Homo sapiens: one gene and its partner. The protein of the gene in region 2 purifies or fractionates together with the protein of the main gene of each other region. This does not show direct contact. Each region holds a gene or a part of one and is shown on either strand. Other genes may lie near its edges.

The links.
Region 1: the proteins of GALNT5 (region 2) and CBLIF purify together in Homo sapiens (affinity purification with mass spectrometry; 2 studies listed by BioGRID and IntAct, with this or other methods). This does not show direct contact.

What each region holds. Positions count from the first base shown.
Region 1 is NC_000011.10:59,832,453-59,844,584, forward strand, and holds part of CBLIF (cobalamin binding intrinsic factor precursor), read right to left. Parts: intron 11,604-12,132; coding exon 11,427-11,603; intron 10,690-11,426; coding exon 10,576-10,689; intron 10,132-10,575; coding exon 9,991-10,131; intron 8,873-9,990; coding exon 8,691-8,872; intron 4,900-8,690; coding exon 4,722-4,899; intron 3,558-4,721; coding exon 3,356-3,557; intron 1-3,355. UniProt on the Homo sapiens protein: Promotes absorption of the essential vitamin cobalamin (Cbl) in the ileum. After interaction with CUBN, the CBLIF-cobalamin complex is internalized via receptor-mediated endocytosis.
Region 2 is NC_000002.12:157,306,742-157,318,873, reverse strand, and holds the end of GALNT5 (polypeptide N-acetylgalactosaminyltransferase 5), read right to left. Parts: intron 10,308-12,132; coding exon 10,146-10,307; intron 7,715-10,145; coding exon of another isoform or gene 7,667-7,714; coding exon 7,526-7,666; 3' UTR 383-7,525; downstream 1-382.

The DNA of each region.
Region 1 (12,132 bases), on a different chromosome or scaffold from region 2:
CAAATGTACCCCAAACTTAAAATAAAAGTTAAGTTTAAAAAAAAGAGAAAATGGGCCAGGTGTGGCGGCTCATGCCTGCAATCCCAGCACTTTGGGAGGCTGAAGAGGGCAGATTGCTTGAGCCCAGGAGTTCGAGACCAGCCTTGGCAATATAGTGAAACCCCGTCTCTAACAAAAATACAAAAATTAGCCAGTCTCATAACCTGATCTCAAAATAAATAAATAAATAAATAAATTTTAAAAAAGCAAACATACAAATGACTAATGAATATGAAATTACTTCACTTAGAATGAAATGAAATGAAAATGAATGGATTTTGAAAACACCTATTAATAATCAAATTTAAAAAATGTAAATTCCCCCAAATGGGTAAATGATTATATGAGTGATGGAATGAATATCCAAGATTAAATATTTGGAAGCCATGAAAATATTTGTCAATAATTTTCAGTAACACAGGAAACTACTTATGCAATAACGTTAAGTGAAAATATGAGGTACAAATTTTACATGAAATATCTGTCCCATGTATATGATGGATCACACCTATTTGTAATATGCATAGAAAAAAACCTACAAAAGTTATAAAAAATATTAACAATTGTGATATTGTGTGTGGACTATAGATGATTTTTCTTCTTTTTGCTTTTTCCCTCAAAATTTCTGCTCTATGTATTTAATACATTTATAATCAGAAAAAGAAAAATTAGGCAAAATTAAAGCTAACTTCAGAGAAGTAAAGTACGGTATATTCAGAGGGTTTTAAAATTAAATATTTTTGGGCCAGACGCAGTGGCTCACGCCAGTAATCCCAGCACTTTGGGAGGCTGAGGTGGGTGGATCACCTGAGGTCTGGAGTTCAAGACCAGCCTGGCCAACATGCTGAAACCCCATCTCTACTGAAAATACAAAAATTAGCAGGGCATCGTGGCGGGTGCCTATAATCCCAGCTACTCAGGAGGCTGAGGTAGGAGAATCACTTGAACCCGGGAGGTGGGGGTTGCAGTGAGCCGAGATCGCGCCATTGCATTCCAGCCTGGGTGACAAGAGCAAAACTCTGTCTCAAAAAAAAAAAAAAAATTAAATAGTTTTGAAGTGCAATTTTTATCCTGACCTGTCTATGGAAGTTAGGGAAGTTATGGAGTCGTGCAGTAAGCAGCAGACACAATGTGCTCAACAGAACCGGGTGGAATAGATACCCACGTGGTATCACTCAGTTGTCAATTCCTTAGCCTTTGTCAGTATTCCTTCTTGATATCTTCCTGAAGAATTTGGATCATCTTTTCTTTGAAAAAGAAAAGATGCTTTTTTCCTTTCCATGACTTGGCATTTTTCCTCCTCTCCTCCTATAGCTTAGACTTCTCCATGTTTCTTTACTGCTTCCTCTTTTTGCAAACTATAAACATGCCCTAAAAGTTAATTTTCTCCTCTGTGATTTATTTCTGTATTTTCCCCTACCTTGAGAGGGGCATGGAAAGAACATGAGCATCAGATTCAGTCCAACCTGGGTTCCACTCTCAACTCTATTAGTTACATGTTATGTGATCTTAGGAATGTTACTAACTTCTTTGGGCCTAAGGGTTCTATCTGTAAAATGAGAATAACTAAATATGTCTTATGGTTTTATTGGGTGCAAGTATCTGCTATCTACTGCATGGGTTCTTGACTTAGGTCATCACCTCTAAGAGATGACTGTCCAATTTATTTTTTGCATGTCCTGACCTCTTTTCCTAGTACTTCCTCTATGCCTCCAAAAGCCTGCCTTTCTGTTTCTTTCTTTCTTTCTTTTTCTTTCTTTCTTTCTTTCTTTCTTTCTTTCTTTCTTTCTTTCTTTCTTTCTTTCTTTCTTTCTTTCTTTCTTCCTTCCTTCCTTCCTTCCTTCCTTTTTCTTTCTTTCTCTTTCTTTCTCTCTCTCAATTCCTTCTTTCCTTCCTTTTTTTTGTTTTTTTTTTTTTTGAGACAGAGTCTCACTCTGTCTCCCAGGCTGGAGAGCAGTGGGCACGATCTTGGCTCACTGCAACCTCCACCTCCCAGGCTCAAGCAATCTTCCCGTCTCAACCTCCTGGGTAGCTGGGACCACAGGCACGCACCACCACGCCTGGCTAATTTTTGTACTTTTAGTAGAGATGAGGTTTCGCCATGTTGGCCAGGCTAGTCTCGAACTCCTACCCTCAACTGATCCACCCGCCTCAGCTTCCAAAGTGCTGTAATTACAGGCATGAGCCACTGTGCCTGGACTATACCGCCAAAAGCCTTCTAATGTTCCTATTTCAAATGCCTACCATTAAACATATCTAAGGAATTTAATCCTTTTCTTTGAAAGATATTCTTTCTTCTTGACCCTTTAATCAATAGTTTTGAAGCTTCTTTCTCTTGACCTCTATGTCCCATCACTCACAGAGCCTTGGTGTGGGTCCGTGTATCCCAGAGGAAGTCATCGTCACTTCACACCTCCATTATTGGAGTCATGTCCTATGTTTTAGCCTTGTCTCCTATTCTCACGACCTAAGCAACATTTTACCAAGTGGATTTTCTTACTCAAAAACTTGCAAAATGAAGTTCAGTCTCCTGAACCTGGTATTTCAAGACTTTTACACTGTCACCCAACCTGGTATGTCCACCTGGCCTATTCATTGGCCCCAAATTCCTTGCTCAGTCTTATCGCAAATGCTTTGTTCTGGCCATTTCTTTTCCTTTTTTTTTTTTTTTGAGATGAAGTTTTGCTCTTGTTGCCCAGGCTGGGGTGCAATGGCATGATCTCGGCTCACCGCAACCTCCGTCTCCCAGGTTCAAGCGATTCTCCTGCCTCAGCCTCCCGAGTAGATGGGATTACAGGCACGTGCCACCACGCCTGGCTAATTTTGTGTTTTTAGTAGAGACGGGGTTTCACCATGTTGGTGAAACTCCTGAGCTAAGATGATCCGCATGCCTCAGCCTCCCAAAGTGCTGGGATTACAGGCGTGGGCCTCCCAAAGTGTTGGGATTACAGGCATGAGCCACTACGCCCGGCCTGTTCTGGCCATTTCTTTTTCTGGACTTACCTCTTCCCACATCTTCCTAAATAGTACCTATTCTTTGTGTTTCAAAGCTACAAAGTCTCTTTTGCCTGTTCTACTCTGCAATGGACTTTCGAATCTCCTCTGAATTTTTGTTTTTAAAACTTCATCATATGTTGACTTATATGATTTAAGTTTTCATGAGAGCCTTACCTATTTATTAGATTGAAAGCTGCTCAAGCGCTATTAAATAAAAATCTGTTATCAAAAGGAAAAAAATTAGGAAAACAGGATGGATAAAAAATGGGAATTCAGATCAGGCCTTGAGAGAATGATGAATGACATTTGTAATACTCACTTGAACATAGGATTTTTGCGCTGTGCTTCCTCTAGGACAACAAGTAACACTGACCCACTTTTCACACTAACATTGATGGTCTCGTTGAAGAGCAGCTCAACCCCCCTCAGCTGGTTATTTATGGTGTATATGACAGTGATGTTAGATGCAGAGGTGGGGCCAGGGCCAGGGTTGCTGGGTAGAGTTGGTTGTACCTCATGATCTGTGAAGGGCAAAGAGGCCACATTTGTCAAAGATTATGGGGTTTGTATCATAGGTGCAAAATCTCTGTTATTGGCAACTTACCCCAGAAGACATTTTGAGAAAGTAGTGAGTTTCATACCATTTAACAAAGTACTTGGACAACTAGCATAGAATTCCGGCAAAAACTCCATGGCCACCTTGTTAAGGTTGGGACATCACTGGGAAGCAGCCTAAGGGGTTGAGTGAATGTGGTAGTTTTTGGTAGGATTGGGATCAGTTTGCTTGATTTTGGTCTCCACATTCTGCATTGAGATAGACGAGAAACTTATTAATTGCTTCTTGTCTTAGGAAGTTCATGCAATGCAAGAGGAATGATGCTTTGTGTTAGCATTTTATTAAAAAAAAAGAGTTTGAGGAATCCATACCAAACACTAGTAATCTCTGGAGTAATAAGTTTTTATGCAAGACCTCCACTTTCCAAATGCATATTTCTGTAATGTTTGAATTTTTAGTGTCTTTCAATTATATGCATAATTGGATAAAATAAAGATATTTTTAATTAAAAAGTGGCATGCTAGGTTTCCACTCCATCTCATTGATATATTGCGTGCATCGAGCTTTCATATTTAGATCGTTAAGGCTCGATTTAAATATGAATTCTGTTCTTCTCTGAAGCCTCCCAAACAAAATCAACAACTGGTCACTATTTTTCTTTTTGGCATTTGCACTGTGTGTGGCTTTAACTTCTATTTAATACTTACTCGATTGTCCCAAATATTGTAGTTTTTGTTTACACATCTGTCTTCTGACTTTGTGAAAGGCAGATATGATAAGATATGCATAGTGTTTGATGGTACATTTGTGAAATGAATAAATGAAGCTATATGTTGTTTGATAGCTGGGACCATGGAGCTTCTTCTACCTCTAGTATCCCACAAAATGCTTTGCACATAGTAGGAGCTAGGTAAATATATGCTGAATGAAGTAGATATGGGGCTGAGTTCTGAGTGCAGGAAGGTATGTCTGTGTGCTAGCACACACTCTTAAGGACTGGGAGTCAGATGTACTCTGCCCACATGGGAATAATGGACATTACAAGCCTATATGCCACTTAACATTGATCCACATGTCATTTCTGGCATAAGTTGCTGCTTTATGACATAAGGAGAGGTGGATGTCTTACCAGGACTACAAGTGACCTGGGGCACATCTAGGTATGTCTTGCCTTTCAGGGAAGGGAGGATTTGAGCAATGGACATGGGGTTGTGGAATTTCCCCTGCTTAATCTCATTGAGTATCATATCCGTAGTCTTCTTGCAGTTCCATTCCTTTTTAGATGGCTCAGGTGTTACAGAGAGAGCCTGGGAAGGAAGACAGAAAGAGAGAGAAAGAGTAATTAGGCATAGCTGAGAGTTGGCTCTTACATGTCTTAAGAGATAAACTTGATCACTAATCATGGTGATCACGTAGTCACCCAGAATGCAAAGCCAATGCTATGTAAGGTTTGGAAAACATTTGTCTTCAATGCTATGTCCCCACCACTTAGCACAGTGTCTGTCAGACAGCAGACACAGAACTGTGCAATGATCAGATCCAGGGAACACTATTAGGCAGTCATATTTACGAACGACTCTTGAATGTAGAGTGAGGGTGAGAGCTGGGCTCCAGAGGGAGCTTTAGCCTAGGACAGTCTAGCCACATAAACGGAGTAGACCCCTTGTTTCATATTGCCATGTGCCCTCTTTGATGGACTTTTCCCTCACTTTGTGCTTGTGTCAGGACTCTCAGAGGCTCCACAACCCTGGCCCAGGATGGACTCATGACCTGGACTGGGCTGATGGTGGTCACCATCCCCTTGATGACAGTGATTGGTGGACACATGTACTAATCAGAATCATTCCCCGACATACAGACATTGGGACACCCAAAGATTTTTTTTTCCTGCTAAGGTTATTCAACTGGGACCATGCAAATAAACGGTAAGCTGCTAGTGACCATCTTTCTCAGCCACTTTGAAGAAGCCCTGCAGCAGGAAAGAATGAGGAAAATCAGGGCTGGACGATGAAAAAAGAGTGGCTCCTGATATCATGATTTGAGCCCTTTATTCTGGTTATTCCTGAAACCACCTAATTCAGCCCTAGACTTCCCAGTGTATGTGAATAGTAAATCCTCATTTTTTTCTTGAGCTAAAAGGATTTGGGTTTCTGTTACTTGCAAAATGAGTCTTGAGTAATACACCAAGCCATTCAGCCATTCACCTATTTTGCTGCGTTATCTATCGCATGAATAAAATAGAAATAATAACTTCTGTCTATTGTTGGGGGAGTCATTTGCGGTTCCAAGGGGCTAATGTATAAAAGCATTTCGTGATGTGTGATGTGTGATGTGGAAGCTGTCATTACCACCTCCCTTCCTTTACAGTGCGATTATGGCCACCAGAGCATGTTAATAGGCTGAGATTGTTAATGACTGGTTCACCTGAAGCTTGGAATAGGAAATGGGAGAAGAGAGAGAGAGGAGTCAGAAACGGCTGTCTCAGCTAGGGTCAGTATGCACAACTGGGCAGTTGTGACAGGGACAACCATCACTGAACCTCAGCATCTATGAAGCATGGCTCTGGACAGAGGCCACTTTACAAGGCAGTTGCTTTAAGGGCCATCAGGTGGGTGCTCCTCAGCAACAATATCTTGTCCACTTGTCATATGCACCTCCCAAATTTCACTAAGCAAGGTATATTCATTGGGATTACACATCACCAATGCCAACACTCTAGAGAGGATAACACATTAAGTGGTTAGACGTCATTAATAACTTTCCATCAAGAAGTTTATCAGTTCTCTTTTTCTTTTCTTTCTTTCTTTTTTTTTTTTTTTTTTGAGATGGAGTCTCGCTGTGATGCCCAGGCTGGAGTGCATTGGTGCAATCTTGGCTCACTGCAACCTCCGTCTCCCGGGTTCAAGTGATTCTCCTGCCTCAGCCTCCTGAGCAGCTGGGATTATAGGTGCCTGCCAGCACACCAGGCTAATTTTTGTATTTTTAGTAGAGATGGGGTTTCACCATATTGGCCAGGCTGGTCTTGAACTCCTGACCCCAAGTGATCTGCCCGCCTCGTCCTCCCAAAGTGCTGGGATTACAGGTGTGAGCCATCACGCCTGGCCTATCAGATCCCTTTTCAAGATAAGCGCCTATCAGAGGAAACTTGAAAGCAATAGGATATTCATGGAAGAAAGATGAGAAGTTCTGGAACAGAGGAAATGCCTCATGAGCGTCTTTGGGTAGGGAAGAGTGTGGCCTGGGCCACTGGAAGTGTACTGACATCTTGGAAGAAGGTGAACAAAGGCTGAAAAGGAACTTTACTAGCATCACTGCTCTGCTGAGACAGATCTTGAACAATTGTTAAGCATTACATTATGCATGCATTTTTTTGCATACCACATTTTATTTAACCTAATTGCAACCTTATTATTATGGGGAAAATAAAATCTGGGGAAATTCAATATTTGTCTGAGATGGTGGCAGGTGTGGGAGTCAAACCTAAATTGTGATAGTTCCAGAGCCCTTTGATTTTCTATATCAGAATATTTTAGATTAGGAAAATATTATATATTAGACACCTATTGATTCCAGATTTCAGGATGCCTAAATAAGTTCCAGATAGAGGCAGTAAAAAGGGTAGGGAGAGATTATGTATTCTGACAAGAAATCCACATGGCCTGTGGTATTTGGATGTAGACAGGGTCCTGCCTTTTGATAGGAAAAGCTCTAATTCCCAGGTACAGCTTATCAAAGTGTACTTGGCAGGTGATAAAATCCAAACAGAATTCACAAACCAAGTTAGCAAAAGTAAACACTTCACTGTCTGGTGATAAATTGAAGCAAGGTTATTTTTAGAGAGTCACACATAAAAAAAAAAAATCCCCAAACCATCTTTTATATCTCTTCCAGACTGCCTTTTTCTTTCCAAAAAGCTTCTAGACCAGAGCACTGGGAATGTTCTTGTAAAATTCAGCCATGGAAAAAACAGGGTTTTGTTCTATGACAAAGTCTCCTTGACTGTGACATAGAAATGAACTCTATTTTTATTAGTCACTTCTATATGTGGTCCATTGAAGTGGAAATTTTTTTTTTTTTGCTCTTATGTTTAACATGAACCAATTCTTAGGCTGCTTATATCCTTTTCTAATTTTTAATGTATGAAATCTCAATACTAGTCTCCATTGTTTTCCCCAGGAGACAATTTCTTTCTAATAGTCCGCAACTATGTTAGGTTTAGGGCTGGCATCACCATTCCATGATTCTCCCTTTAGTGGGCTTTCTGAGTTGAAGAGTCCCTGGTCCTATTAATCCCCATAGGACATTTTGAGACACTGGAGCTCAAACTTCTTAGTTGGGATTAGAGGATTCAGCCACAGATGGTTGCTAGTTTCTGATTCTAGTTGGTTATTTCTGCCCACCACCATTGGTGCATCTGTCTTCTATGGAGGCTGCTGCCCTAATCAACTAGGGTAGGGTGGGTTGTTGGATTTGGAACTATGAATACCAAACACATCTTACAGAATCCAAGCCTGGGAATGCATGCTGTGAAAGCACAGAATTGAATATGGACTTGGCTGACAGATAGATCTGCTTTACCATTTACTATGGGTTTTTGTGAGGCTGGGTCAACTTTAGGTTATTTTCCTTAATCATTTTGAGTATAAACTTGCTATTTTTAGATCAAGGTAAAACACTGAAAAAGAACACTTGGCTGGTAAGATTGCATCAGAAAATTGTATATTTTTAGAGGGCCTGCTTTAATATTCTTATTATTTATACATCAAAATTGTAATAGTCTGTAACTATTACAAATAAACTGATCATTATTAATAATAAATTAATATATTTCTTGATTTATTTGTTTCATTTTTTTTCCCAAGAAAGAGAAACAAGTTCATATAGATTTGTTTTCACACTTTACATAGGAGGTAGGGAGGAATTAACACTTACCTGCATTTTACCAGTAGAGAAACTGAGGCCCAGGCACCACAAAGAATATATCTCAGGTCATACTAGCTGGACTTTCACAGAGATGTTAGTAGAAGCCTGGCCTCTTGATTCTGCAATCCAGGCTTATTGGCAGGAACCCAACCAAGAGCATCCAGCACGTGTTTACCTGCATGGCGAGGCCAGTACTGTAGATGTCTCCAATGATGCCATTATCTTTGATCTTCATGCTGATTTTCTCCACAATATCCTTTAGTACCTGACCAAACAGGGATCTGTAACCTTCCTCTGAACCTACAGGGATCTTGTTGTACATACAGGTCAGAGCCAAGGTTGCCATTGCTCCTGTGTCTGTGAATGACAGAGGGTATAAGATCACCATAGTCACCATCACAGCAATATGAACAGCTAACATTTATTGTGTGCTTATTATATTCTGGCTCCATGATTTTATTTGCTCCTCAGAACAACCTGTGAAACAGTACCTGTAATCATCTCCATTTAAGAGACAAAAAATGGAGGCTCAGAAAAATTAAGTAAGCAGCAGGGCCAAATCTCCATTTGAAAGTTGCATAACTTCGTTAAGGGTGCTAGTGTTACTGACAACCAGAAGTAAATAAGTCCAAATTTTTGGAGGCAGAGATGCCCCAGAAATGTGTGAGGTCCCAGATGTGAAAGGGAGACCAGTCTGTTCTTAACCCCCAGGGAGGATCCTAGAGCAGTGGTTCACCTGTTTGTCTGACAGAAACTGAAACAAGAGAGGTTGCTGATGGGGCATGCATAAGGGAGTGAAAACCTGAGATAATACTATTGCTTAGAGAGTTGGCAGAGGAGAAAAGGTGATCATGAATGCGGGCTGTGACAGTGGCCCCCACAGAGAAGGATCATTATCCATAGAAGGGGACAGAAGGAGGACATGATGTTGTAGAGGGAAAAGCTTCTATTCACAAGCAGCCATATGCTTGCAGAACAAAGACGCAAGGTGGTCCCCGAGTTGCCATGAAGGGAAATATCACGAGTTAGGGTTCCGAGAGTAGCTGTTTAATGGAGAGAGGATATTTGGATGTAATGAGGAGAAGCATCGAAAAGAATGGAGTGTGGGAGCATCAGTAGTGATTAAAGAGAGGATGCAGAGGAGAACTGAAGCAAGACATTCATATTTAATTTGGGAAGAACTTCTGACTTGAATGGCATTACTATTGTTCCCAGCGGAGATTCTGTAGCTGCCAGACATATCAAGTATTATCAATTGTCCTTGTTTCTACATAATACTACCCCCTCTTCCTTCACTTACTCCTCAATTCACCTGCCCAACAAACATCTGGTAAATATCTCCCATCCACAGGCACGTTCACATCCTTAGCTCCTCCTCCATGGGACGCTCTCCTTTGTCACTTCCCTGCCAGCTCCACCATTCAGTTCACGATGCCTCTGATGTTCCCAGCTCGGGGTAGTGGTGACCTACTCACCTACATTGAAGGGAGAGGAGTTGGCCAGCAGGGTCTTGGCAAAGCGGACGGCTATCGGCAAGGTCGCCTCAGAGTTCTTCTGGCACAGTGCCAAGATCGCTAGACTGGGCCCATAGAAGGCTGATGCTTCAGCGTTGGGGCCTCCGAAGGGGATAGAGAACCTTCATCAGACTCACAGTCACCACGATGAGGACATTTGCAAAGAAGGAAAAGCCAAGCCTTTGAAAAGGAAATTGCTAGAAAACCTGCCCCCAAAGAGAGACACAGCATAGGCAAAGAGCAACTTCAGTGTTTTTCAAAAGAATGTCATCAGGCATCTGCAAAGAATAAAAGGGATGACTCTGTGTCTTTAGACAGGTGATGGCTGGACAAGCTTGTGTCCTTGGGATCATGACCTTTTCTAGTTCATTTTGGATTGGAAATGAATCTTTCTGGTCTGGATTATCAGAAGGACCAGAGTGAAGGATACATTGTCTCTTCCCTAACTTGCCTTTCTCTCCACCCCCACCCTTTTCCTTTCTGGGTTTAAAATTCTTAGGTAAAACCATATGCCTGACTCTTTTCTCCCTTCCAGTCAGGTCTTACTGGAAGGTGCCCAGTTCTCCATTTGTCTTTGTAGAATGGATACTTTATCCCCAGGGTCTCGGCAGGAGGAGGTGAGGGCCATGATGGTGAGGCCGAGCTGCCCAATGGTTAGATCTGCAGAGAAGAGAACACAACGGTTAGACAGAGACATCCTCAGGGGACAGCTCTCCAGGAGCCAGTGATGAGTTCTCTGCTTTTTATCTAGAGCATTTTGACTTTTTAATAATATGAGCAGTTCTTTGATCTGTCTTTCCAAAGAAAAAAATATGGAAGAATACGTAAGGGAATATTTAATCTAGTGGCCTCTGTGTAACTTGATGACTCTAGTATTTGGTATTTGAGAATCCCTGGTATTTGATTAGAAAAGCAGCAAAATACTCATATAGATTTATATACAGAAATTTACAGTTGCAAAATAATTTAAACTTTATCTAACTTGAGCCTGCAGGCAGCTCCTGGGAGATAGGCAGAACAGAGATTTTATTATTATTATCATTGCTATTAGTAGTAGTAGGGTTATTGTTACTACAATCATCTGCAAGGTGAGGCTGAGCAGTATCCAGTGACTTGTCTCAGATCCCAGAGTTATGACGTGGCAGAGCCAGAACCAGAAGGCTGCTCTTTCGACGTCTAGTCCAGAGCTCTCCCTGCTTTACTGACCTCCTCCATGAATGCTCTGACTTCACACATGTTTCTTTCCAGGTACCTTCCAGGTATGTAAGGAAAGGTGTTTGGGTAGTTTATTTACAGTCAGAGGCAGCATTGGGGTGGGAAGGACGCTGAGTTGGAATCTGGAGGTGGTATGTGATGTGTGAGATTCAGGGAGAGTGCGAGCGGCTCAGATGTCTCACCGTTGTTGTCGCTGGACATGAGCTGGTAAGTCAGGAGCTTCTGGGCCTTCAAGTTGTAGGCTCCGGCCAGATTCATGGCAATCAGGATGCTGGGGTTTGGGTAGGCTGATGAAGTCACCGAGTTCTCCATGAGTACTTGTATTCCATTGACCAAGGGCTCCTGTGCTGAGGGAACGGCTGAGAAGAGGAAAGCCATTTACTCACCTTCTAACCCTCATTCCTTCTCAAAAACATTATCCCCGTGTCTTTGATGCTTTTTCTTTCTTTCTTTTTTTTTTGAGACAGTGTTACTCTTGTTGCCCAGGCTAGAGTGCAATGGCACGATCTCGGCTCACTGCAAACTCTGCCTCCCAGGTTCAAGTGATTCTCCTGCCTCAGCTTCCTGAGTAGCTGGGATTACAGGTGTGCACCACCACGCCAGGCTAATTTTTGTATTTTTAGTAGAGATGGGGTTTCACCATGTTGGCCAGGGTAGTCTCGAATTTCTGACCTCAGGTAATCCACCCTTCTTGGCCTCCCAAAGTGCTGGGATTACAGGCGTGAGCCACCTCGCCTGGCCATCTTTGATGCCTTTTAGGAGAACACTTGATTAGCATTAGTGTCCTAAGTCACTAAAGAGAAATGGAGAAAATGGTGAGATTTTACTTTTGAGGACAATTAGTTTCTACATCTTCTCAAATAATCCATATCCTTAAGAAAGTGATTT
Region 2 (12,132 bases):
ACCAGGGAAGAGGGAGAATTAATTTATTGTGCAAATGCTGGTATTTCTTACATGATTTTTTGTTTTCCTCTGTTGCTAGATAAATAGAAACTAATAATAGCTCTATTTCTCTGCCAATATAAAATCTACCTTTCATATAATGCTACATTGAAGGCACAGAATTTGCTACCATCTCTCTCTCCCCCTACCTACCAAACTATCCACAATTTAAATAAAGAACTGCTGTGTCTGACTTACTCTCAATAAAAGTTTGTGTCTTTATTTCTGGTCTCTAGACTTTATTTTGTTTAGCTGCCTTTTAAACTTTAGAAAGAATCCTTGTATATCAGCAGCTACTATGATAATTAATGAATACCTCTTCAGAAATCAAGAGAACACTTTATTTTAGTTCATTTGCATTATTTATTTCAAAAAGGTCTTAAAATGATTGTATATAAAATTGTAAAAAGGATTTCTGGTAGGTAGATATGTAATATACATGAAAAATTTTTATCATTTTTTAAGGAACTGAGATCATGTTTAAGATGCATCTTAACACGAACAACTTGAAGAAATCTCTGTAATCATCAGAGTAATACATTTAAACTATGCTGACATTTTCATAGCAATCGTTTCTGCATATTTACATGGGATCATACTTTTGGCATATTTTCAAATGGAGAACGGACATTTAAGTTTTTCAATGTGATAGGGAAAACATTTAAAATAAGTAATAATAGAGAATTATGGAGAAGGATAAAGCACCAGAGTATAATAAAGAAGAAATATGTTTGACAGTATGAGAAAGGCAACCACTTCTCTTAAAACTTGAACTTTCATCACTCTAAAAAACAATAGGATTGTAAAATGCAATGTCAAAAACTATATTTACCAATATTAAAGTATCAGACAGAAACATACCACAATGAATATGGGTTTCTGATAACCCCTACAATATTCTACTTAACTTCAAAACTCAGTATTGTTTAAAGACAATGAAAATGTGTATATAGTTCATGAAGAACATGAGATAACTGAGCCAGGCAATCAATACAAACACAATGACATGGGTAGTAGTAAGCAGCTGAACTCACTCAGAACATGGCAAACTACAAAATCAAATGATGATCTCTAGTAGCTAACTGCCAGCACAGGAGAATTTTGGAAATGAATTTAGAAAGTAATTTGGATGTTTACCTAGAATTTAAAGTTACATACTTGATTCCTTCTTTATAATAACTTCAGTCGATCAGATGCAAAAGAAAAAGTACTTAAAAATGTTTAATTCCAACATCCTTTATACTCCACAGTTTTAGTTTTATTCTCCCCTTAGCAAATGTTTTCAGGCAATCTTTAACACAATTCACTTACTTAATCTTTGGCTTCTCTTGTTTTTAAGCTAATATGTATAAAACTAGCAAATTTGGGGTAGTTGTTTGAAGCAGAAGACATGTGTGTAATCTTCAACTAAATAACAAGCACCCTGATAATTAAGAACTTGATTACTCCTTCAAGTTTGGAAAATGGTATCCAGAGTGTAAGTTCACTTGAGATACTTTTGTGCAGAAGGCCAGATGCAGACAAAGCTATACACCTGAAAGAGTTAAAAATATCTAAAAACATTTTATTTTCTTTATGTTGTGAATAGAAACTCTTGATATTTCTTTCTTCCAGATCAAAGCATCAAAAAAAAAAATATATATATATATATATATATATACACACACATACAGTATATTTACAAAAATTGCTATGTTTTTGAGTGGTCACTTAAAAATCTATTCATGCTATGAAAAATTTTAATTTAACATCTAATATAAAGGGTTTATTATATAGATGCTTATGACCAATATCCTTAAACTGGTAAATATCTGTCAATCAATAATAAAACAGAAAGCTCTTGTTTTTGAAAAAAATATTTATTACTTATTTGATGGTGACTCATTATTAGAAACAGCATATTAGAAGTTGCTGTATTTGCTGGAAAATGAGAATTTTCCCTTGTGTTTTGTATGTGTTTTTACAAAGCAAAGATTCACATAAACTTGCAAAGCGACTCTAATTGAAATGATAACTATTGTTCCATTAGGTTGAAAACAGAGGCATTAAATCTGTTTAGTGTGATGTTATTTTTTTCTTTCTTTGAGATACAGACACCACCAACACCTGGAATACTATCCATTAAGCTTCATTAGGGATATATAATACTTTATATGGCTTATTCAAAACTGTCAAAAAATAAATATTTTGTACAATATCTCTGGTTAATTTTTTTTTCTAATTGTAAGGCATTTTGTCTTGTAGCAACTATTGAGTAACCCATGCAAAAGTTGTTGCAAAAGCACAGTAGTGACAACCTACACAATGAGTAGGAATAAAAAGTCATGGTTTGTGTTTTAAAGGACTCCAACTTTTTAACTTTTTATTTCTGTTCAAGATGAGCAATCTGCTAGCTTTGATTAAAGGTTGGAGGGATCAAGGGTTGGTAATATTAATACAGGAGTCATTAAAAATTTATTTTAGGCCATTAGAAAGGGTAAAATAGTTCTCGGTGGATTTTTCCTTTAATAAAAAGCAGCCCCCAAGCCACTTATTTTCTAACAAAAAGCAGCCTGAAAAGTCAAGTTGCAAGTATAGATATGCAAGCTAGAGGCTCCCATATGTAAAGCTAGCAGCTGTACCTGGAAGCCAGGCACATTCAATATGGTGATTCCTGCTCCCTTTTCCTTGTCACCAGGTGTGTGGGTGACATGGCACTGGTGAAGTGAAGCCACGTGTGCAAATGTCATGGTGACAGCCAGGTAGAAGATGCATTTGCATAATAAAAGGTTAGGGTGGGAGGGCCAGTCTTTTCACCGGCTATGTAAGTAGTATACCTGGTTAAACCAATCCCCGGGCCCTATGTATATCAATCACCGCCTCCTCAAGCCTCTGTATGAAATCAATCAAATCTTGCCCCAAACCCAGAAAACCCTCTCTTGAGCAACTGTCTTTCTCAACATGAGGAAGCTTTCTCACTCTCTTCTTTATCTATTAAACTTTCCACTCCTAAACCCACTCCTCATGTGTGTCTGTGTCCTGAATTCTTTCTTGGCATCAGACAATGAACCATGGGTATTTCCCCAGAAAATGGAGCTTTTTCAATATTATTCACAGAGAAAGAATCCTCCACATGTCCACTTCTTTCTTTCACATTTGGTCCAGGAGATGAAAAAGAATAGGTTCTGCATGAAGTCAAAGAGATAGATCACAGCAAAACATGTGGGGGTAGCCATGTTTATACCTACACATCAATTGGTTACCACAGAGAGAGAGAGACCATGCTTCTTTTTTCTGTTTATACAACATCCAAAAGAGGCCAAAGGGGTTTAATTCAATCTCATCTCAATACTGTGGCATCAGTAATCTGAGACCAAGAAACTTTTAAATGCACCCACCTGAGATGACAGCCCTTTGTAAAGAAGAAAATTAATTATATAGCAGCATGGTATAGTGAGAGAAATTTTTTTTGAGCCAGATAAAATGGAAACTGGGTTTTATCTCTTACTTGTGGGATGACCTTGGGCAATTTACCAAATTCCTCATCTGTATGTGGGAGTTATCCTTCTTGTTCATATAACAGGGAGAATGAGAGTCATTTGATGAGTTGTACCCATCAGTGAGATGGGACACATATAGCACCTACACAAATAGTACCTACACACACTCAATGATAATTAGTTCCTTTCTTTTTTCCCATCACCCAATGTCATTTTTTTGTTTTAATCCAAGATTTTGGGGCTTTCTTCTGAGGTAAAAATTATTATTATTATTTTTTGAGATAGAGTCTTGCTCTGTTGTCTAGGCTGGAGTGCAGTGGCGCAATTTCAGCTCACTGCAACCTCCACCTCCCGGGTACAAGCAATTCTCCTGCTTCAGCCTCCCAGGTAGCTGGGATTACAGGCGCCCACCACCATGCCCAGCTAATTTTTGTATTTTTAGTAGAGACGGGGTTTCACCATGTTGCCCAGGCTGGTCTTGAACTCCTGACCTCATGATCCACCCACCTTGGCCTCCTAAAGTGCTAGGATTACAGGTGTGAGCCACTGCGCCTGGTTGGTAAATTTTTTTTCTTGTATTCTGAATATAGGAATTCAATCAGAGATGTTAAAACAAAGAAAGATGGTACTCTCTGGCATGTTTCAATCTTATTCTATTGCATGAGTGCCTGCTAGAAATAATTACAAGCCATTCATGAAATCAAGGTTGGTTGGGAATATTGGACTCCTATATACTGTAAATGGTATCTTTGCCCCTCTGCAGTCCCAAACTAATACTAGAAGTAAGGTGTTTTAATATCTAAAAGAATGTTTCCAAATTAGTGTGGCGAAGCTAATAATACATTGTGATCATGGCACATGGTGGTTTGCTGTGAATGACAGCTGAGGGGATGTCAACAAGCAGTATTAAGCAAATTTGATGCTGGTGATAGAACAAGATTGTACCAACAACAACTGTGTCAGCTTACAAGAGAGTAGGGCAGAAGCGCTGGGTAACTGTTGAAAAGGAGAAAGAAATTGTGCAAACTGAAAAGTCTCAGAAGCACTTAGATGGCTTGGTAAGTTGGTTAGTGCTGTCAAATATTATCAAGACCACCCTTGTATTCAAGGTAACAAGATGCATAGACTTTTTTTTTTTTTTTTTAAAGTAAAGGCAATGACCTAAGCTAATCCAGGGAAAAATCTGTAGCTCCTGTAACACAGCCTCCTATTGAAGAATTCAGTGCTGATTAGGACCTGTCTCATCCAAAGGTTTATCACTAGAATTACCAGAAGACCGAGTAGCATGTATACCTTTATTCTAATCTCCTGAAAAAATTTAGAAGGCTATGCTTAAGAAAATGTTGGTAGTAGATGTAATAATAAATCAATACACTCAAGTTTAGGCCCATATAGATTCCCAACTAGTGATCAGTTCCTTGCTTCTTAGAGTAACTGAGCAAATATATGATGAAAAGCAATGTATAAAATTCTATCCAAGAACAAATTTGTGATGTTCAAAAACAATCCTTTGTTATATTGACAATATAGATTTAAATATAGCTTTATATAATAAGTTTGTCAGGGTAAAGTCAGAAAGGATGTGAACTGAGAGGACTGCAGAAGTTTCTGTTAAGGAAAAAAATCCAACTTCCTTTAGTTGATATACCCAAAGATAAGTGTATTCAAAATGCAATTCATTTTTTTTCAGAACAGAGTTGACTTCTTTGTGGAAACTATTTTCGGATAAAAAGAGAGCCTATATACCCGGGGGAAAAAAACCTCTCAACATTTTTTAGTTACATGAAGAATTACATGAGGCACCTAGCATGTTCAGTTTGTCAGTAACTCAATTAGTCTTTTGACAACTGACTTGCGTCCCCCCATCCCCCTTGCCCCATATGGCTCTGTTTTGAAAAGAATTAGAGTCATGCATCATTTAATAACACAAATACATTCTGAGAAATGTGTCATTAGGCAATTTCATCATTGTGTGAATATCAGAGTGTACTTACACAAACCTAGATGGTGTAGGTAGCCTACTACACACCTAGGCTATATGGAATCCCTGTTGCTCCTAGGTTACAAACTTGTGCATGTTACTGTATTGAACACTGTAGGCTATTGTAACATCATGGTGAGTATTTGTGTGTCTAAACATAGAAAAGCACACTAAAGATACCATATTATTAATATAATCTTTTGGGACCAATGTCAAATATGTGGTTCATTGTTGACTAAAACATCATTATGTGTCATATAACTGTATCTCATTTCCTAGTCATTCTCTTACTCATCTGCAGTTTTCAATTATATGAAGAAAACATCTTAAATATGTTACAAATGTGCAGAAATAGTTCTTTTTCCCATTCTTAGTTATAGTTTTGCTTTTACGTAACTCATTGGGAGTCAAAATTAAATGTTAAACTAGGAGTCAGAATGAAAGATACCTAGTTTCACAATCATCTCAACTGAACAAAAGTTTAAATTTAAAAAAAGAAAAAACATATTAACAAGAATATAGTATGGTTGTCCTCCAGGGACCCAATCCCAGCAAAGAATTGTGTATCTCTTTCTAAGGAATTCTGTGAAGCAGATTTGTTCGGGCCAGTGACCTGAGGCATTAGAATGAGCCCTGTCTCTGGAAACCTGAATTCTAATCTTGATTCTTTGACTAACTTGCCTGGGTTTTAAGATTTTTAGGTAATTTATCCTCTCAGCATCAGTTTTCTTACCAAAATGAATGCAAAGGCTATCCTGATTTCTAAGGTGTCTTCTGGTATGCCAAAGTATTGGTATGCTTAAGATTAGAGGCTTTATTTGGATGAAATCAGTATTTAACTTTTCCCAAATTTGTCAGTGTTCTCACTGGGTTCACACTGAGGGCTTTACTCTTTTTTCCTTCATAGAGATACTAGATCCCCTTCTTTCTTTGGCCAAGTCCAGCGGAATTTTTTCTTAACTCTCTTCCTAAGACTTGTTTACCTCATTCCTTTCCCCTTTCATGATGTTTCCTTCACTTCATTTTCCCTTTGAAATATTTTAGAACCCATTTTTCGCATATTTCATCCCTGTGAATGCTACTATATCTAAAGTAGTATTTTATTATTTTTATATAAAAGAAACTTTCAGCAGCTCTATTTCTGCTTTACTCATTTCAACTCCTCTTACTTGGCCCTGCACTAGAGTGCATTCAATGCTTAAATGCATTTTTGATTACTACAGTGTGTTATAATCCAGCCTTTTTTCATTGCCTTAAAAAAAATCCACATGAATCTAGGAAGTTATTGGTATCATAAATCTTTAAAACTGTAGTTTTAAAAGCACAAAATGAACTGAAATAGTGTTCATACCTAGAATTAAATAAGCATTTGAAGGCCTCTTCTTCCTCACTTAAATTTTTTTCCACTGATTCAGATTGGGAAAAACCATTATGTAATTTAGATCAAAATGCTGCCATCAAGCAGGGTTACCAGCAGTAGATCAATACTATTTCAAACTGTTAGGTAAGCATGCATGTAGTCTGGAGGGATTTCACAAACGTGACAGCTGTGGGCATCTGAGGTCTTCTAGCCATAAGAACTCAAGAAATTTTTGTTTGATGAAAAAATCCCCAAATAAAGGACTAAGTTAAGTTCTCATTGATCATTCCTACTTGTGGGCCAGAAGAGCTGATTATTACCAAACATAGTCATTGGGAATATCCTCATGCTTTCTCAAGTCCTTCTGTCTTCATTTCCAGTTACCTGTTAGCTTTCACAGGGAAATTTGCATGATGAGGTCTAGCATAGGGTGGAAAGCAGGCAATTCAAAGGCCACCCAGTTCCGAAGAAGGACTTCAGTCCAATGTTGGACTGTTTTCCTGAGTCATCTTTTGGTATTCCAAATATTGTGATTTATAAAAAATCTTCCATTCAAATGTTATTAAAATTGAAAATTTAAACTACCGCTGAGAAATATAGTTTCCAAGTTCAGTGTTATTTTCACAGTATTTAATGGGTTTACTATATAAAAACATCAGTTACACTTCAGGCTTCATAATATTTTTCAAATTTCCACTTTTGATATGGCTTCACTGGGTCACAGGCAGCTACTTTCAGGATCTTTTGAGAAAAATTTCCTTCCAAGCATAATAATTGCTGATTGTTTTCAAAAACAATGTGATTCACCTGGAGAGAAAGAAGAGCTGGGAATGAGCCACAGGCTGAATTTGATAACTGCAATATGAAGAAATGAAAATCAATTAAAAAAATGGACAGGCAGTTATATTTTTGATTTTTAAGAATTCTTCTGAACTAAATTATTAACATAAACACAGACTTTGAAAAGTATTAAATTTGTCTCTGTCTCAGACTAAGTAATCATCCTCCACCAAGCTATAAGACTTTTAAGTCCTCAGGAGGCAAAAGAAAAATTTCTTGATGATATGGCTGAGAACTATACTCTTTAAAGAGAAAACATTACAGATGACATTTATTGGATTTGATAGATGATAACTACTTCATTGATGGTAAAGAAAGAATACATACCGTAACAAAAAGTTAATTAATTTTTAAAGTAGGTGTCTTTGTGAGTTTGGATTACAAAATTCTGGAAGTGATGTATTTTATTTATGAGCTCCTTACCATAATCTCTGACAATTCATAATAACTGATGTCCAAAATCCAGATTAGGAAAAAGTCAACAGCATTAAAGAAAGTTATATTATTGCTTAATATTTAGTGAATATCCTAGAAATGGTAGATAAATTAGATAGACCTTACTAATGGCTTATATATTTTTTCATCTATAAATTTTCTTAATTACGTATGACTATGACAAAGACAATCTTAATTACACATGTTGTTTTTAAACTTTAAAAAGTTATCAAACAGGGGTGACTTTCATAATAATTTATTTTAAAGATTGCTGCTACAAAAGTATTGTCACCCTTGCAGGATTTTGGAAATACGATGCTTGAGTATTGTCAAGGATTTGTAAGGAAGTCTCATTTTATACTTCTCTTGTTGTTTAAGACTTACATATAATGGGAGACCTAGTAGCAATAGCATGAAAACTACTGAAAAACTGAAAAAAGAAGAAAGCTGATCACCAAGCTATTCATCTCCAGGACATTTGGTAACATCAAAAGGGAAACCCAAGACAGAAGGCAGCTGTGTAAAATGTTCCAAAGTCATAGGTACAAACAAGGTAGGGAAAAGGCTTTCTAATTTTTGCTATCTTAACTAAATTACCTCCTTTACCAAATCAGCTTACCGCTTAAGAGAAACTGCTATGCTTGAACTCTTTCCCAAGATTCAATTCTGGAGATGAAGAATGTGTTTTAGTTCTCGTTCTTATTCATATTCTCTCTCTCTCACTCTCTCTCTCTCTCCTTACCACATCCCCCCCTTTCTCCTTCCCTCCCTCCTGACTTTGGCACAGGGAGAAGGTAAGATGTAAGTTATTCACTACACTGCATGTTTATGGATTTCCTAACACTATGCAAAATAAAATTAGTGGCATATATGCTAATAATTCCTAATCTTTCTGAATAACTCAATAATAACCATTATTACTAAAGAGAAAAAACTGTTCAGAAAGAATTGAAATACAACAGAGAAGATCTAATGGGAGAAATGTTGGAGAATACATTACTCAGGCCCCAGTTTTGGCTCTGAGCAGGAAGAAAAATGTTGAGAAAAGAATAGTCATTGTGTTGTTAAAAGGAACGGAGGCACCTAAAGGAAGCAAAGGTGCTTACTTTGGGGATAGCCCAGGACAAACTGAGAGTCTCCAAATACCCAAATATTTACTGTAGACAGTAGATTTGGTGGCTACCTGCTGGAGAGATTGTAGAAAATTTAAGAAGGCAATTCTGAGACTATTCTCGCCAATCCCAAGCTCCTACACCAAGGCTTATGACTCCGTATTCTGTTAAAATGTAATTGGGACAAATGGAGAGGACTTTGAGAATGAATACAGTAGACCAGGAATGTTCTGGTAAATGGAACAACTGGACCTTCAGAAAAGTATCCCTGATCCAGTAACATCTTCCAATTTCTGTGGTATAAATACTCCCAATATGGCCAGTTTCCAGCTACCAATGTGGTATGATTAAATGCAAAGCTGGCAAGGGTGTGCACAAGTGGCTCCAGCGAGCTGGTGAGAGTTGGCTCCAGCAGACCCTTAGAAGCCCCGGTTTCTGGGTACCACAGGGGATGGGAAGAGTCTCTTATGGAAAGGGGGCAGAATGAGGAACCAGATTCACTCTAAAGTGCAGGACTTGTAGGAGACATGCTGCTTCCTGTGTTGCCCATATCCTCTCCTTATAAGCATTACTGATGACCAGTGGGGACCAGTTCTAGCCTTTAAGCCTGACTTTCGGTGTTGTTGATTGACTGAAGCAAATGATAGCAATGCAACTAGAAGAACTTGGTGATTTCTATTTAAAATAACTCATTTGAAATAAATTTTGAAAAATAAAAAAAAAAGGACTTGTCAACTTTCGAAAGATATCCATGCATCTCTGTGAATGAACTTTTACATAATCCCATGGTCACAAACACACAAAACTTCTGACTGAGGAAGGTGACAATGAGAATTTTATGTCCTATTTGATCAAAAGTCAAATTTGTGGTAAAGAAGAGGTACCAATCTTTTGCTTACCAGTTCTGGATGAAAGACTGATGTTGATTTATGCAGCCATTTTAGCCCTTTGTTTCTGTTATCACAAGGGTGCAGCCTTACGGCTCCTTTATCAGGGATGGGGGCTATACACCATTCTCCACATTTAATAAGTCTTAACCAGGTGTAATTAAATTGTTGAAGCTGTGGGGGAAATGAATAAAGAGGTCACTTCAGGCAGCAAACACAGGCAGGGGCTTTGTCAAACATTTTTGTTAGCAACAGTTAAGAATATAGGAACTATGATCTGACATTTTATATTCAAGTCCTGGTATTATCATTTGTAATTCTGATAGTATGGGCATATTATTTACCCTGTCTAATCTTATTTTTCTAATTATTTTTAAGTTGGATAGCGATTGTATCTATCTCAGAGGGTTGGGGTAATGACTGTCAAGTGTTTAGCACACAATAAGCCTTCAATAAATGTTAGTTACAATAATAAAAATTATTCAGTGCAATTAATTCTGTCTGCATATGGATGTCATTTCAGTGTTCTGAATCCCGACAAGCCTGGTGCTTAAAGAATTGGAATGTTCAGTCTACCACATGATTAAGGTTCTAAGCCACGGGTGGCTACAGGGAGATACCAGTCATAGCCCTAAATTTCTTGGGTGGAGATTTTATGCTTCCTTGTATAAAACCATCATAAAGGCTTTGTCCGATTGTAGGAAAGGTGGAAGTCCTTCTTTGCTACTAGCATGAGGAATCATCAGGTTGCTACCAGGTTGGCATCCCCCAGTTCATAGAAACTGCTCTTGGAGAAATTGCCAGTGTCTAAAATAAGTACCAATTCAGGTAATGAAACCATGTTTTTAATTCTGAAACATTTTTCTTCAGTTGTTTACAACCTACTATTGTCTACCCGGTCAATTTACTCTAATGCTCTGGGTCTGTGGGAAATTTATCGTTTTGTACTAATATAAACATATTTGAAAAAAATAGGCTTCTGGTAAAATCTATCTAAATGCCTTTACCTAATGAATCATTTGTATTGTAAGTGAAGTTTAACTTTGATTATCAGGTTAGATCAAAGTCATTGTGTTGGACCTTGCCATTGGAAGGGTGGTCCTTGGACCAACATCCGCATCAGCTGGGAGCTACTTAGAAGTGCGGAGTCTCAGCCACATCACCGACCTACTGATTCAGAATCTGCAGTGTAACAAACTCCCCAGGTGATTCACGTGAACATTAACATGTAGGAAGCATGGAAGTATGGCATAATATAAGGAAGTTATGTGCTACTAAGAGAAGCTAGATATTACCTTGAAAAAATACGTTTCAACTGCTTTAAAGGTTAATAACTAAGGAAACTTTTTAGGTAAGGTAAGGGATAGAGCTTGATGATTCAATCTAAGGGTCTTATTCTTTCTGAGCCTTTTTGGATGAATGTTGTAGTCACTGGCTTGGTATTAAGCCTCATTAATTCTGCTGAAAATGAGTTAACTTCCTCCACATTTCTTTACTTTTTATTACCCAAGCAAACCACAAGAGGCAGAAGCTAAAAATGAGCAACAAAGACTAAAAGGGAGCTGGGGCTTTGTGGAAGTCGAAGCCTGCATAATTTATACTTTTGCCTCTCAGCATCCAATTGAGAAAGACTCAATGGTCATCAAGAATAGAATTTGGGTTTTCAGATAAAATGCTGGTTACTCTGGCACAAAAACTCCCTGCTATGATGATTCCTAAAAAAAAAAAAATGCATTATTTAATACTTTCCTTTCATATAATGTGAAATAATTGTGGTTTTGTTTTTACAATTTATGACTTTATTTCCTCTTTGTTAGTAAGTGAAATTTATTTCTTTTAATGAGTTTTAACACTTCTTCACTTCCCTTTGACTCCTTTCTTTCCTAATTAAAAAAGAGTGGCCTTGGCTTCAGGTTTACAATTCACAGCTAAATATAGCAACAGAGATACCTTTTCTTCTAGTAGTAGCTCTGAGTTAAGAGGTAGAGATGGGATGCAC